Homo sapiens: one gene and its partner. The protein of the gene in region 1 purifies or fractionates together with the protein of each later gene. This does not show direct contact. Each region holds a gene or a part of one and is shown in the gene's direction. Other genes may lie near its edges.

Region 1 (7,039 bases):
AGTCTATACATATGTTAAAATTCAGAGAACTTTATATCCCAAATTTGCTATATGTTAATTAAAAAAAAAAGTAAAAATAAAGCCTTAAGAAATGAAGGGAGGCGGGGCACGGTGGCTCACGCCTGTAATCCCAGCACTTTGGGAGGCCAAGGGTGGCGGATTACCTGAGGGCAGGAGTTCCAGACCAGCCTGGCCAACATGGTGAAACCCTGTCTCTACTAAAAATATACAATTTAGCCATGCGTGGTGGTGGGCACCTGTAATCCCAGCTGCTTGGGAGGCTGAGGCAGGAGAATCGCTTGAACCTGGAAGGCAGAGGTTGCAGTGAGCCGAGGTCGTGACAGAGCAGGACTCCATCTCAAAAACATAAAAATAAAAATAAAAATAAAAAAAAGAAAGAAATGAAGGGGCCAGACAAAGCGGCTCATGCCTGTAATCTTAGCACTTTGGGAAGCCGTGGCAGGGGGATCGCTTGAGCTTAGGAGTTCAAGACCAGCTTGGGCAACGTGACAAAACCCCATCTTAAAAAAAAAAAATAGAAAAATTAGCTGGGCATGGTGGCACGCACTTGGGAGGCTGAGGTGGGAGGATCGCTTGAGCCCAGGAGATTGAGGCTGCAGTGAGCCGTGTTTGTGCCACTGCACTTCAGCCTAAGTGACAGAGAAAGACCCTATTTCAAAGGAAAAGAAAAAGAAGTGAAGGCCCTGTAGAGAGCGTCCTAGTGTCTAAGCTGACCTGGCCCCAAGCGCTGCTCGAGGGGTGCTTCTGTGACGGCGCAGCATGTGTGCCCAGGCCTGGTTCCTCACGGCCAGGCCCATCATCACTCACTGGCTTTTTCCTTCCTCGTGTTAGATTGGAGCTGGAGGGAGCATCACTGGGCTGAAGTTTAACCCTCTCAATACCAACCAGTTTTACGCCTCCTCAATGGAGGGAACAACTAGGCTGCAAGACTTTAAAGGCAACATTCTACGAGTTTTTGCCAGCTCAGACACCATCAAGTGAGTAGTTTAACTAGCAGGGGAAAGGGCTTCTAAGCTTAGGTGTAGTTCCGGCAAGAGCATCCAGATCCCATTTCCTTAACCCAACCTGGCCCAGGGAAGAAAGGAAAGATGTCAGCCACTTTCCGCCCTTCTTTCTCTTTCTCAAACTGCTCCTTGGCTGCCCTCACTTTGGTCCAGGTGGGTTACTGCTTTGGGAAGGTGTTCTGGAGCCTCAGCTCTTCTGTAAGTCATACCTGTATTAGACTGGACCTTGACCCTCACTAGATAAGCCAGCATGGCGTGGACCCAGAAAGCCACCTAGAGAATGGAGCAACAGCTCAGAACTTGAGACTGAATGCCCTGCACTCACTGTGGTGTAATGACCTGACCTGTTCCTGGGTGGAAGCTTATATGGATGGAATCTTTTCCATAAAGTGCTCTGGACTTCCCAAGAGAAAGTGGCTGGAGAAATTACAGAATGCGGCCGGGTGCAGTGGCTCATGCTTGAAATCCCAGCACTTTGGGAGGCCAAGGTGGGTGGATCACCTGAGGTCAGGAGTTCGAGACCAGCCTGGCCAACATGGTGAAACCCCCATCTCTACTAACAATACAAAAAATTAGCTGGGCGTGGTGGTAGGCCCCTGTAATTCCCAGCTACTTGGGAGGCTGAAGCAAGAGAATCGCTTGAACCCAGGAGGCAGAGGTTGCAGTGAGCCGAGATGGCGCCATTGCACTCCATCCTGGGCAACAAGAGCGAAAATCTATCTCAAAAAAAAAAAAAAAAAATTACAGAATACTCGTCACTTTGATTTCCAGCTAGAGCCGTGACTCTGACTGCTCCCTGAGGAATTAAGTGAGGGTGCTGGGGTGTAACTAGCATTGGATTGGATCCTGGGCTGTCCCGCAGGGATGAGGAGTGCATGCGCACGCAAATCAGCAGGCAATTGGATAGACAAGGCTCCAGGCTACTCTTCCGCAAGAAATCTTCCTGCTTGAAGATATTCATAGGGGATGGCAAAAGGCAGTGTAGCATGGATTTGAGAGTTTGAGAGAAAAACTGTGAGCTGAGCTCTTCTGGCTGAATAGCAGGATCCCTGAAGCACCCTCCTAGTCAGCCTCCCAGTCCAGTGGTTTGAGGGACCAGAAGAGCTCCTGGTTGTGTTTTTTCCCCCAGTGTTCAGAAGGGGGCAGAAGTGCTTTTCTAGCCAGCTCTGAGGAACAGGGCCAGGCAATCCCTCTTTGGCTTGTGTCTCCTTTGGCCTAAAGGGTGAAGAGTGAAAGGAGAGAGCAGTAAAGGAGGCTTGCTCAGAACCCGGGGTGTGGGGGGCAGGCGTGCCTCAGGGCTTGCTTTATGGTATAAGCTTTGTCTGCTTCAGGGACTTTTAGGAGCTGGGGATCCTGGGCCCAGCCATAACCAGACAGATTTCTGAGCCCCATTATCCCATCCCCTCTGTCTGGACGGTAGAGCAGTCTGAATGTTCCTCACTAGGAATCCACGGCAAGACAGTTATTCATTCATTCAACAAATATTTATTGAATGCCCGCTGTGGGTTAGTCACCGGAGCGGCAACAGTGAGTAAATAGGACTATCTCTGTCCCCAAGAATCTTACAACACAGTCTCTCCCTCCAGCATCTGGTTTTGTAGCCTGGATGTGTCTGCTAGTAGCCGAATGGTGGTCACAGGAGACAACGTGGGGAACGTGATCCTGCTGAACATGGACGGCAAAGAGGTGCGTTCTCCGAGGTCCTGCCTTTCCCTCCCTCACCCCCACCTCGGTTCTGTGTCCCCACCTGAACCGAGCTCTTCTCTGCAGCTTTGGAATCTCAGAATGCACAAAAAGAAAGTGACGCATGTGGCCCTGAACCCATGCTGTGATTGGTTCCTGGCCACAGCCTCCGTAGATCAAACAGTGAAAATTTGGGACCTGCGCCAGGTTAGAGGGAAAGCCAGCTTCCTCTACTCGCTGCCGCACAGGCATCCTGTCAACGCAGGTGTGATATCCCAGACCTCATCTCTCCTGCAGACCCTGCCTGTCTGACCACTGCTGGGGTTTTCCCTCAGTGTGGAAGCCACTACGTCAAACCTTTACCCCTGATAGCGTCTGCCAAGCTGATGTCTGGGAACCTTTGTGGCTGTGGCTGTCCCCATCAGCTGCTGAGTTTCCAGAATTTTTTTGTTGTTGTTCACAGCCCAGATTCACCTCTTCCTTTCCGCTCCTGTCTAGAGAGGAGTGGGAGGGAGAGTACCCCTGCAGGAGAAGGCCTGCAAGGCCAGGACCACAGAGGGCTTGTGGTTCCTTCAGCTCAGGGGCTTTTCACTTTGCCAGCTTGTTTCAGTCCCGATGGAGCCCGGCTCCTGACCACGGACCAGAAGAGCGAGATCCGAGTTTACTCTGCTTCCCAGTGGGACTGCCCCCTGGGCCTGATCCCGCACCCTCACCGTCACTTCCAGCACCTCACACCCATCAAGGTGAGTGGCGGTGGGAAGGAGCTCGCAGAAGGAGGCTGTGATCATGAGGCCGGAGCAGGTCTGCCCACAGTGGGGAAGGGCTGATGTGGTAAGCCTGCCACCCCAGATCGCTCCTGGCCCGAGCACAGAGCATCTCTTACCCATTGGCTCTCTCTCTTCCTTTTATCCCACTTCTGCCATCCCATATGGTTGAGTTTTCTGTCTCGCTGATAAGATATTTTTCTGAGTTTTTTCAGCCCAGCTCTGATCTCACTGTGAGAATTTTCTAAGATCCTGACCCTCTGTTCTGTCTTCTCAGCTTCAGTTACCTGTGTACAGTTGACCCACAAACCTTCATTTTTTATTTTTTTATTATTTTTTTTAAGGCAGGGTCTCGCTCTGTCACCCAGGTGGGAGTACAGTGGGGCAAGCATGGTTCATTACAGCCTTGATCTCCCAGGCTCAAGCGATCCTCCTGCCTCACTTTTTTTTTTTTTGTAGAGACAGGGTATTCTTGTGTTACCCAGGCTGATCCTTTTTTTTTTTTTTTTTTTTTTTCTTGAAACGGTCTTGCTCTGTCACCCAGGCTGGAGTGCAGTGGCACAAACATAGCTCACTGCAGCCTCAACCTCCTGGGTTCAAGCAATCCTTCCGCCTTAGCCTCGGAAGTAGATTGGACTACAGGTATGCGCCACCATACCCAGCTAATTTTTTTATTTTTTATAGAGATGGGGTTTTGCCATGTTGCCCAAGCTGGTCTTGAACTCCTAGGTTGAAGCCATCCCCCAACCTTGGCCTCCCAAAGTGCTAGGATTACAGGCATGAGCCACTGCGCCTGGCAACTTTGCCTTCTTAGTTTGTCTTGCAGGTTTCAGTGCTTCTAATAATAAAAATAAGTCTTTTATTTTCCCACCTTTTCTCAGGCTCTTGTTAATAGCTTCTCTATCATTAGTCCCCAACACTAATAGCTTTCAAGTCCTTTGATGCCTTTTTGCCTAAGCCCCCATGCAGACTGAGCTCTGCTAGTTCTGCATTCTTTTCCAAAACTACAGATCCTCTTCAGATCTTCAGGTTTTATGCCTATACTTCTCTGGTCAGTTCAGAATAGTGGTGGGGAGCGCCAGTTTCCAGCAGCCAGACCCCCCGGGTTAGAATCCTTGGGCAAATTACTTATATTTTGGATCTGTTTCCTCATCTGCAAAAAGGGAATACTAGTCTCTAACTGATAGGGTTGTTGTGAAGATGAGTCAGTATACTTAAAGCACTTGGCCCCATGCCCAGCACCTGGTAAGTACTGGTAAGTATTCAATAAATGATGATTGAATATTGAGTGGCCCCCACGTACCTCAATCACATCCAAGCTCTTAATAAATAATGTCAAGAATCCTTCCCCAGTTGGTGTTCCTGTTAATCCATCAGTGTTCCCGATAATCCATCTGTCTGCATGTCCCAGTTTGTATCTAGCCAGGTGTCGTAAGTCATTACAGCTTCCTGTGTGTGATTTGTGACTTATTTCTAAGCCTTCGCATGTACTATTTCTTCCTTCCTGCTAACCATGTCTTTCTTCCTTCAAAACTTCCTTGAGAAGTTTAGGAAAATCCCATCCAATTCTGCCATTTTAATAACTGCCAGATTTGTTTTTAGTGGGGTGATCTGGGGAATGTGGGTTTCCTTCTCTTTTTTAGCCATTAGCAATTTTACACTCAGCTCTTAGTTATTCGTGTTGATGGAGACAGGATGACAGTGGGGCTCCTCCAGAACTCAAGTCCTGTTAGGGTTTGGTCACCAGAGGCTTTTTCTGCTTTGTTGTAGGCCTCTTAGGTCAGTATCTGGGTCAGGCTGATGTTAAAACGTTTACCAGTTGGTATGATCTTAGGAAATGCAAATGAGGGAGAAGGCCTGAAGGTGCCCTAAGGGCCAGGGAGGCCAGCTAGGGATTAAAAATGTGCAATGGCAGAGGCACACACAACCTAAAACCATTCTTGTAGTTTTCTGTAAGACTTATCTCCATTATTAGGTTGGCTTGTTACTGGCAAATACTACTTTTTTTTTTTTTTTTTTGAGAGTCTTGCTCTGTCACCTAGGCTGGAGTGCAGTGACATGATCTTCACTCACTGCAACCTCCGCCTCCCGGGTTCAAGTGATTCCCCTGCCTCAGCCTCCCAAGTAGCTGGGACTACAGGCATGTACCACCACGCCCAGCTAATTTTTTTTTTGGTATTTTTAGTAGGGACGGGGTTTCACCATGTTAGCCAGGATGGTCTCGATCTCCTGACCTCGTGATCCGCCTGCCTCAGCCTCCCAAAGTGTTGAGATTACAGGTGTGAGCCACTGCACTCAGCCCAAAGAATACTTTTGATGTTCCTCTTTGTTCATATTTGTTTTTGATGTCCCCCTTGATCATGTTCTGTGTTTACCCTCATGGCCGGCCTCTCCATCTCCTAGGCAGCCTGGCATCCTCGCTACAACCTCATTGTTGTGGGCCGATACCCAGATCCTAATTTCAAAAGTTGTACCCCTTATGAATTGAGGACGATCGACGTGTTCGATGGAAACTCAGGGAAGATGATGTGTCAGCTCTATGACCCAGAATCTTCTGGCATCAGTTCGGTGAGGCTTGGGTCCTCAAATAATGATGGGAGGAAGCAGGGATTCAACCTACCTTATTGACCAAAAGTGACCAGAAATCAGGTGTCTCTGCTAATACCTTCACCCTCTCCTCATGTTGACACTCTTGTCTCTGCAGCTTAATGAATTCAATCCCATGGGGGACACGCTGGCCTCTGCAATGGGTGAGTAGGAGGAGAATGTCTCTGACTTGCCAAGTCCGATCCTACTTCCCAAGGTTCAGTGCGGGCCAGCCTCAGCCCCGCCCTGCCACATTCACCCCAGGGCAGTGGCCCACGAAGAAGATGGCTGGGAGACAGTGGTCTCTATAGCCAAGGCCCTCCATTCCTCTGGCTTTGTCTTGGTCATGCAATGCCTGGCTACTGTCCAGTTTCCTAGTATTTCTTTTTTTTTTTTGAGACGGAGTCTCGCTCTGTCCCCCCGGGCTGGAGTGCAGTGGCGTGATCTTGGCTCAATGCAAGCTCCGCCTCCTGGGTTCACGCCATTCTCCTGCCTCAACCTCTCGAGTAGCTAGGACTACAGGTGCCCGCTACCACGCCCAGCTAATTTTTTGTATTTTTAGTAGAGACAGGGTTTCACCGTGTTAGCCAGGATGGTCTCGGTCTCCTGACCTCGTGATCCGCCCACCTCAGCCTCCCAAAGTGCTGGGATTACAGACTTGAGCCACCGCGCCCGGCCTTCCTAGTATTTCTTTACCAAATTGTAGGTTTGCGGGCCAGCCCCAGGCTCTGAGAGATTGGTAACAGAAAGTGTAAGTCAGACTGGTCTCACTCTTCCTAGGTTACCACATTCTCATCTGGAGCCAGGAGGAAGCCAGGACACGGAAGTGAGAGACACTAAAGAAGGTGTGGGCCAGACAAGGCCTTGGAGCCCACACATGGGATCAAGTCCTGCAAGCAGAGGTGGCGATTTGTTAAAGGGCCAAAAGTATCCAAGGTTAGGGTTGGAGCAGGGGTGCTGGGACCTGGGGCACTGTGGGAC
Region 2 (7,039 bases), on another chromosome or scaffold:
AGTGGAGCTACATTTGTGATCACAGCTGTGTGATAACAGGAGTCATTTCAGGCCTCCTGGTGCCTTGGTTGTAAAATAGTTCTTTCCTTAAATGCAACTGGGAGCTATTTAAAAGTGGGCTATAAAATGCCCAGGGTTAGCAGGTGGAGCCTATGTGTCCTAGCTGTGTGAGGCTAGTCCTGCCCTTTCCAAACTCACGCTCAAAGTTTGACCAAACTCAGGAAGGCTAGTGTTTGTAAGATTCTTTCTTTGTTTTTATTATTTTTTCTATCCCTGTTGAAGTTAACATGTTTATAAGATTCTTCGGATAAAAGAACTTACGTTCAAAATCAGTAACATATTGGGCTAATGTTTGTAAAACACCGTGAGGGACATGGAAGACAAGGAGTGGGTCATTTTAACTTGGAATACAGACTCATACAAAGAATATCTGATAACTATACTCTGGTATATAAAAAGCATTGGGACATTTGTGTTTTCTCTGTTTTAATGGAATTTGATATTTGTAAGAGCTGTCTCACATTCTACGAGGATTCACTGTGGAGTGATTTAAATTATTTGGGGCTTATAAAGCCAGATGGACTGATTGGAGAAGTTTTAGCTCAGTTTTGAAGGAAGGCCAGGGTTAGAGTATACCTGGAGGTGAGGAGAGTGTGTTCCCAGGCAGGCACGTGGCATGTTGGAAGCCATGAAGCAGACCCGGTGAGCTTTGTACACAGGTTCGGGAGGGAGAGAGAATCTCTGCTCATCCCCGAGAGAAGCATATCCAGAGAGGAGCAGTGCCACTTTGACTCCTTGGGGCCTGATGTCCCCTGAGTTTCCCTCACTTCAGCTACTTTTACACCCCAGGACATGTGTTGCTCACCCCTCACCCCAAGTTCTGTCCCAAATATAGCCCCAAACACCTTCTCTATACAACATCTGCCACAAGTGGAAGTTTTCAATAGCTTACAAAACTTAGAATAAATAAGAAATAAACTTAGAAATACCCCAACACAAAAATGGTCTGGCACACAAAATCTAGTTTCTGAACCTGCCAAAGTTGGCTGTCCTATTCTGTTTTTGAGATGGCTGACACAGCTTTTTATGTCCATAGTCTGGTTTCCTGTTTTTAAGCCCCCAATATGTTTGACATAGAGGTGCCAGACTAACTGGTTACCATGGGATGTTTACTAGTAGAAACTCTTACAACTCATGTTTAGGCACTGGAGGTAGATTGAAACAAAATTCATAGGCTGAGGGCTACCACATATATGGCAAAATGCTCACACTGTTGGATCTTAAGTGGAGGGTATGGGGATATTCATTGTAGTCTTTCAACTTTTTCATTTTTAAAAAAATTAATAGTGGGGAAAATAGGAGGAGGGGTATGGCAATTAGGAAGTAACTTAAACTTCTGAGAAAAGGCGGAATCTTCAAAACAGGATGCTTTTAGGAAATCTTTTTTTGTTTGTTGTTTTTTGAGACAGTTTTGCTCTTGTTGCCCAGGCTGGAGTGCAATAGTGCGATCTCAGCTCACCGCAACCTCTGCCTCCCAGGTTCAAGCGATTCTCCTGCCTCAGCCTCCCTAGTAGCTGGGATTACAGGCGTGTGCCACCAGGCCTGGCTAATTTTGTATTTGTAGTAGAGACGGGGTTTCTCCATGTTGGTCAGGCTGGTCTCGAATTCCCGACCTCAGGTGATCCGCCTGCCTCGGCCTCCCAAGGTGCTGGGATTACAGGCATGAGCCACTGCGCCTGGCCTAGAACATCTTTTTTTTCTGTTGAGAAAAGGATTACTCAGTGCCATCTATAAAATCTATTCTACCTTCTTTTTTTTTTTTTTTTTTTTGCGGCAGAGTTTCGCTCTGTCACCCAGGCTGGAGTGCAATTGCGTGGTCTCAGCTCACTGCAACCTCCGCCTCCCGGGTTCAAGTGATTCTCCTGCCTCAGCCTCCCAAGTAGCTGGGATTACAGGCACCCGCCACCACACCTGGCTAATTTTTGTATTTTTAGTAGAGATGGGGTTTCACTGTGTTGGCCAGGCTGGTCTCGAACTCCTGACCTGGTGATCCACCCACCTCGGCCTCTCAAAGAGCTGGGATTACAGGTGGGAGCCACTGCACCCGGCCTGTCCTACCTTCTTTAATCGTATGTGCTACAAAACCATCTTCCATGAGATACAAAGTTGAAAATTAAAGCTGTATTCTAAGAAACTAGCCCCAGACTACCATATTTGTCTCCTAATGTCCTGCATTATGTATTTAGAAGTGCTTGTCTTTGGGAAGGAGTGAACGGGCAAGAGATGTGGCAGAGGGAGTATTAAAGGAGGTCCCTGTAAGATACTGGGGAGAGCTGTTGGGGAAGAATATTTCTGAGCCTGGAAGAGACTTCCCAGGCCATTCTGCAGCTCAGGGCTGGTTTTCTCCATTGTAGGTGTGATGGCTGTGAAGCAGTTCTACTGGGCATCGAGCAGCAAGTTCTGAGAGCCAACCAGTACAAAGAGAACCACAACCGAACTCAGCAGCAGGTAGAAGCAGAGGTAAGGAAGGAAAGGAACATTTGTTTCTCTCTCCAGGCATACCTGTTTATTCGTTTGCAGTGTTTATGTTTTTGTTTTGCGAATCTTGGTGTAGATGAAACAAGCAGTCACCAACAAGTGGGCCTGGGCTAGGTGCTGGGTTACAGGGATGAGTGTGACACGGCTCCTGCTCTTGGTGTTCTGTCTCTTTTTTCTGATTCCTGGTCAGCATAGGGTGATCAATCAGGCTTGGAGAACAGAGAATGTTGTAGTTTCAGTACACATGTACTTTGCAGCTATAGAGCAAAAGAAAATGAGTTTGGGGATGGATCTTAAAAATGGATAGAAGGATGGTGGTAAGTTACCAGGTGGAGTGGAGGGAGGGGTACAGCTGGGCAGGGGCATGTGGGGCTTCAAGGCCCTGGGAGTGTTCTGCTTCTTAAGTTGCGTGGTGGGCACATAGTTTCATTTTATTCTTTCTCTGTGAACTGTACATATATATTATAAATGTGTAAAATGCATGACATGTTTCATACGGAAAGAAGAAAGGGATAAAATTTGGCAGATGAGCTGCAAGTGAAGTAAAGAGGATGTAAGTGTGGTTTTAGTGACACCTGGTTGTTGAGGAAACTTTTAGCTTCTTGGACAGATGTAGGCCCCAGCCTTTGCGTTATGGGCATTTGTGTACCTGTAACCTGACACATGAAGTGACCTCACTTCACAATTTATTTGGAGCCCTGCACTGATTTTCCTTAGCATTGGAAGTTCTTTTCTAGTGTGAATGGAGTTTGAAGTATTAATGATGCTTAATGAATTTTGAAAATCAGGTGTCTAAGAGTGGCGGAGTGGGACCCGTAATTCCAGCTAAGAAGCATAAGAGATGAGTAGATGGTGCCTTTCAAAGGGGGATTTGTGAAATTTGGAGTGATTCTCTATACTGTTATATGCACTCCTTGAAAATAAAACCTGTGTCCTATTTGTAAGACGAGCGTCTTGTCTCATGCCTAACCCATAGTAGGTACTCAAATGTTGAACTGAATATTTCTGGCACACCATAAAAGTGTGTCAGTGGACTGCTGAACTCTGCTTTTCATGAACTTGAGCTAATTTTTTTGAATACACACACACACCACCCTATATACATATACTCTGTGGATGTTCAATTCATAGACCATGTTTAATCCGACTAGCCAAGGAAGTATGAGGCTGGGTGCAGTGGTTCACACCTGTAATCCCAACACTTTGAGAGACCGAGGAGGAAGTATTGCGTGAGTCCAGGAGTTCGAGACCAGCCTGGGCAAGGAAGTGTTAACTATATTTAACATTAGTCCAAAGCAAAGACAATTAGGAAAATAAGCTTGCTGCTTTTCTAATAAGCTGTGCAACAACCCTCTTGATGATGGTGGCCTTTTCTCTGACTTGGGATTGAGGTCTGAACAAAGTAGGAAGGGCTAACCGCTTTCTCCTTTCTGTTTATTCTTCCCTATAAATCAAACTCTGTACAAAATGAGGTTGGGAGGCTAACCACACTACCTAATCTTTGGTATCAAGGTCATTAACAAAGATGAATGATACTTGTTTTAGAATTTTGAACTGTTCAAGTTTATTTTCATTATAAATAGCATCAGACAAAAGAAAGGCGGGTGTGCACAGAGCTATTGTAGACACTTGGCTAAAGTTTGAGGCACACCGTGTAGTTACACAACAGTGTAGACTCTTTAAATTTTGGTTATTTAAACACAGAGGGTGGGTGTGTGCACGAGCAGAGCCTGGTGCTGCCAGCAGGTGGCGGTAAGGATTTAAGTTTGAGAAAAAGAAATCTGAGCAAAAGGCCAAGGCCACCTCCACCACCAATTAAAACAGTCCATTGACGTAATAATCTTTTAGAAAATCTGAACCAGACCAATATGGTCTGTTCCCTGAGCATGGCCAAAGCTTAGGACCTTGTCATTTTTTCCATTTAGCAAATGCATGATCTGGCTGCTAAGTGTTGAAGGCTGCTTGCCACCTACTTGAGGCACACAGAAGATACTCACCAAATAGCTACTGACTTGAAAGGAAAAGAAATCTACAAAGAATCAGGGTGATTCTGTCGTATTCTGTTTGTATTTATGCCTCTGTTACCCTTGGCCTAACTTTTAAAAGCCAATTTTGTCAACTGATTGGTGATCTTTTCTTTATTTGTCCTTAAATTAGATTGCTTGTTTTCAGAGGGAAAAACGTGATGTCCCCCTCCTGAATCTTATAACAACAGCTTTCTTCTGGTGAGTTGTAGCTTTAAGAGCCCTCCTTCTTAATGAAGTCAGCCCTATCACAGACTGCCGAAGAATATTCTCTCCATTTAGGCTTTTGTGGAAATAACCCATATTAGTTCCTAGTTCCAGCATACCTGGGGGACCATTATGAGCTGTTTCATTATTTCTGAGGAAGCACTGTGGTGGGGAGGTAATACTTAGAGCATTACAAAGCACTTTCACATTTAAATTTGATTTTGGAAAGTATTTTCTTTTTGAGACAGAGTCTCTGTCACCCAGGCTGGAGTGCATGGAGTGCAGTGGTGCAAACACAGCTCGCTGCACCCTCAACCTCCTGGGCTCAAGCAGTCTTTCCACCTCGGCCTCCCAAGTTGCTAGGACTATAGGACTACAGGTGTATGCTACCACACCTGGCTGATTTTTTTTCTTTTCTTTTTTTTTTTTTTTTTAGGGAGAACTGGGTTTTGCTGTATTATTCAGGCTGGTCTTGAGCGCCTAACCTCAAGCTATCCTCCCACCTCTGGCTCCCTCTTTGTTGGGATTACAGGCGTGAGCCACCATGCCCAACCTACTTTTCTTTTTTTCTTTTTTGAGATGGAAATTCACTCTGTTGCCTAGGCTGGAGTGCAGTGGCATGATCTTGGCTCACTACTGCAACCTCCGCCTCCTGGGTTCAAGCAATTCTCATGCTTCAGCCTCCTGAGTAGCTGGGATTACAGGTGCCCGCCACCACGCCCAGCTAATTTTTGTATTTTTAGTAGAGACGGGGTTTCGCAATGTTGGCCAGGTTGTTCTCCACCTCCGGACCTCAAGTGATCCGCCTGCCTCGGTCTCCCAAAGTGCTGAGATTACAGGCCTGAGCCACCGCGCCCGGCCTCATTTTTCTTTATATTTGGATGTGCCTATGTCTGATGTTAGGTGGAATGTTAATTTATAACTATTGCTACATTTACAAAGTAGGCTGTGTTCCAGTCATGGAGGTCGTAAAGTGTAACTGGACAAAGTAAGCTCTGTTTTCCATTATGTAGAAAATCTCCTAGGAGTTAGTGACAATCTTGAGATTTATACAATGCACCAAAAGTATGCTTCCTGGTACCTCTTGGAAAGGGACTCTCCATCACCCAGTTCTCTTTTTCTTTGTAGCACTTTTCCAGTTGTGCACTGTGTTTCCTCTCGTCTGCCTTTGCTTTGCCCCTCAACTGAAGGAAGGTTTCCTGCCCCAGAAAGCTCTTTCTCCTTTTGCCTAAATATTTAAGGTCTCTGATGGAGCTAGGCTGCATTTTTGCTAGCAGTGCAATCTTACTTGAAAATTTCTGAGGTTCATGTTTTGAGGAGCCTGTAAGCCAGGCCACTGGAGGAAGAAAGTCATAAGGAACTCTACCAAATTTAGGTAAAAGAAGACAAGTCTGTGGTGATGATATTTGTTGTCAGTTGAAGGGTGACTGTGGAAGAGGAATTGGAATTCTTAAGAAAGTCTACGAGACCAGAATGGGTTTAATTGGTTGACCTACCTGGGTGGCCAATTTGGAGTCCTAGAAGGAGCTGTCTGCGGTTACAACTGCCCAGCTACTGGAAGAAGCTAGTTGAATTTTAAGATCCCCTTCCACTAGGAGAGTCTGTCAGTGCTTCAGAAGTCTCGTTTGTGAGTTGTGTGTTGTAAATGCAGTGGTAAAGCTGACTTGAGCAAAGTGTCTCTGTAATGGATCCCAGTGTGAGGGCCATGGCCCTGCCCCAGCCCAGGCCAGGCCTTTGTGGAGGATAAAAGGCTCATTTCCTAGGCTTAGAGACACTTGCCCAAGAAGCCCTCTTTTCCTCTGCAGGATGTTTACATTTTGCCTCAAAGTGGTAACGACTGTAGAGGACTTAGATTTGTCAGCAGTCTTATTGGAGGAGTGAGGTGTGTGCATCTGAAACACAAAGGAGATGCAGTGGTGTGGGAGGCCATCGAAGAGGGAGAGGCACTGCCAGGCAAGTACAGATTGAAGGGTGGCAGATCAGTGTGGGCTGCAGCAGTCAGGGCAGTTTGTATGGACCAGGTGCTCAACTCTCCAGGCAGGATCAGAGGGGCAACCTGGGGAGGAGCGGTAACCCCCGGGGTGCATGAACAACAGAAGGGCATAGGGGGAATGACTGCTTCCAAGTGTGGTGTGGGGGACGAGTGTGGCTGAGATGGCTTGAGTGCAGGGCATGTGTTGAGGAGTGGGAAGGAAGGTACCTGATCTTGGTATTTCAGAACTAGAGAAAAAACCAAGTTTTTCCCTGGGCCAAGTCTTATTTCTTTTTAT

Evidence for each region.
Region 2: the proteins of DDB2 (region 1) and COPS7B purify together in Homo sapiens (affinity purification with mass spectrometry; 4 studies listed by BioGRID and IntAct, with this or other methods). This does not show direct contact.

The regions. Positions count from the first base shown.
Region 1 is NC_000011.10:47,231,962-47,239,000, forward strand, and holds part of DDB2 (DNA damage-binding protein 2), read left to right. Parts: intron 1-852; coding exon 853-998; intron 999-2,611; coding exon 2,612-2,711; intron 2,712-2,795; coding exon 2,796-2,973; intron 2,974-3,308; coding exon 3,309-3,451; intron 3,452-5,875; coding exon 5,876-6,040; intron 6,041-6,176; coding exon 6,177-6,222; intron 6,223-6,838; coding exon 6,839-6,888; 3' UTR 6,889-7,039.
Region 2 is NC_000002.12:231,796,445-231,803,483, forward strand, and holds part of COPS7B (COP9 signalosome complex subunit 7b), read left to right. Parts: intron 1-2,414; coding exon 2,415-2,520; intron 2,521-4,463; coding exon of another isoform or gene 4,464-4,493; exon of another isoform or gene 4,494-4,657; intron 4,658-4,695; coding exon of another isoform or gene 4,696-4,763; intron 4,764-7,039. UniProt on the Homo sapiens protein: Component of the COP9 signalosome complex (CSN), a complex involved in various cellular and developmental processes.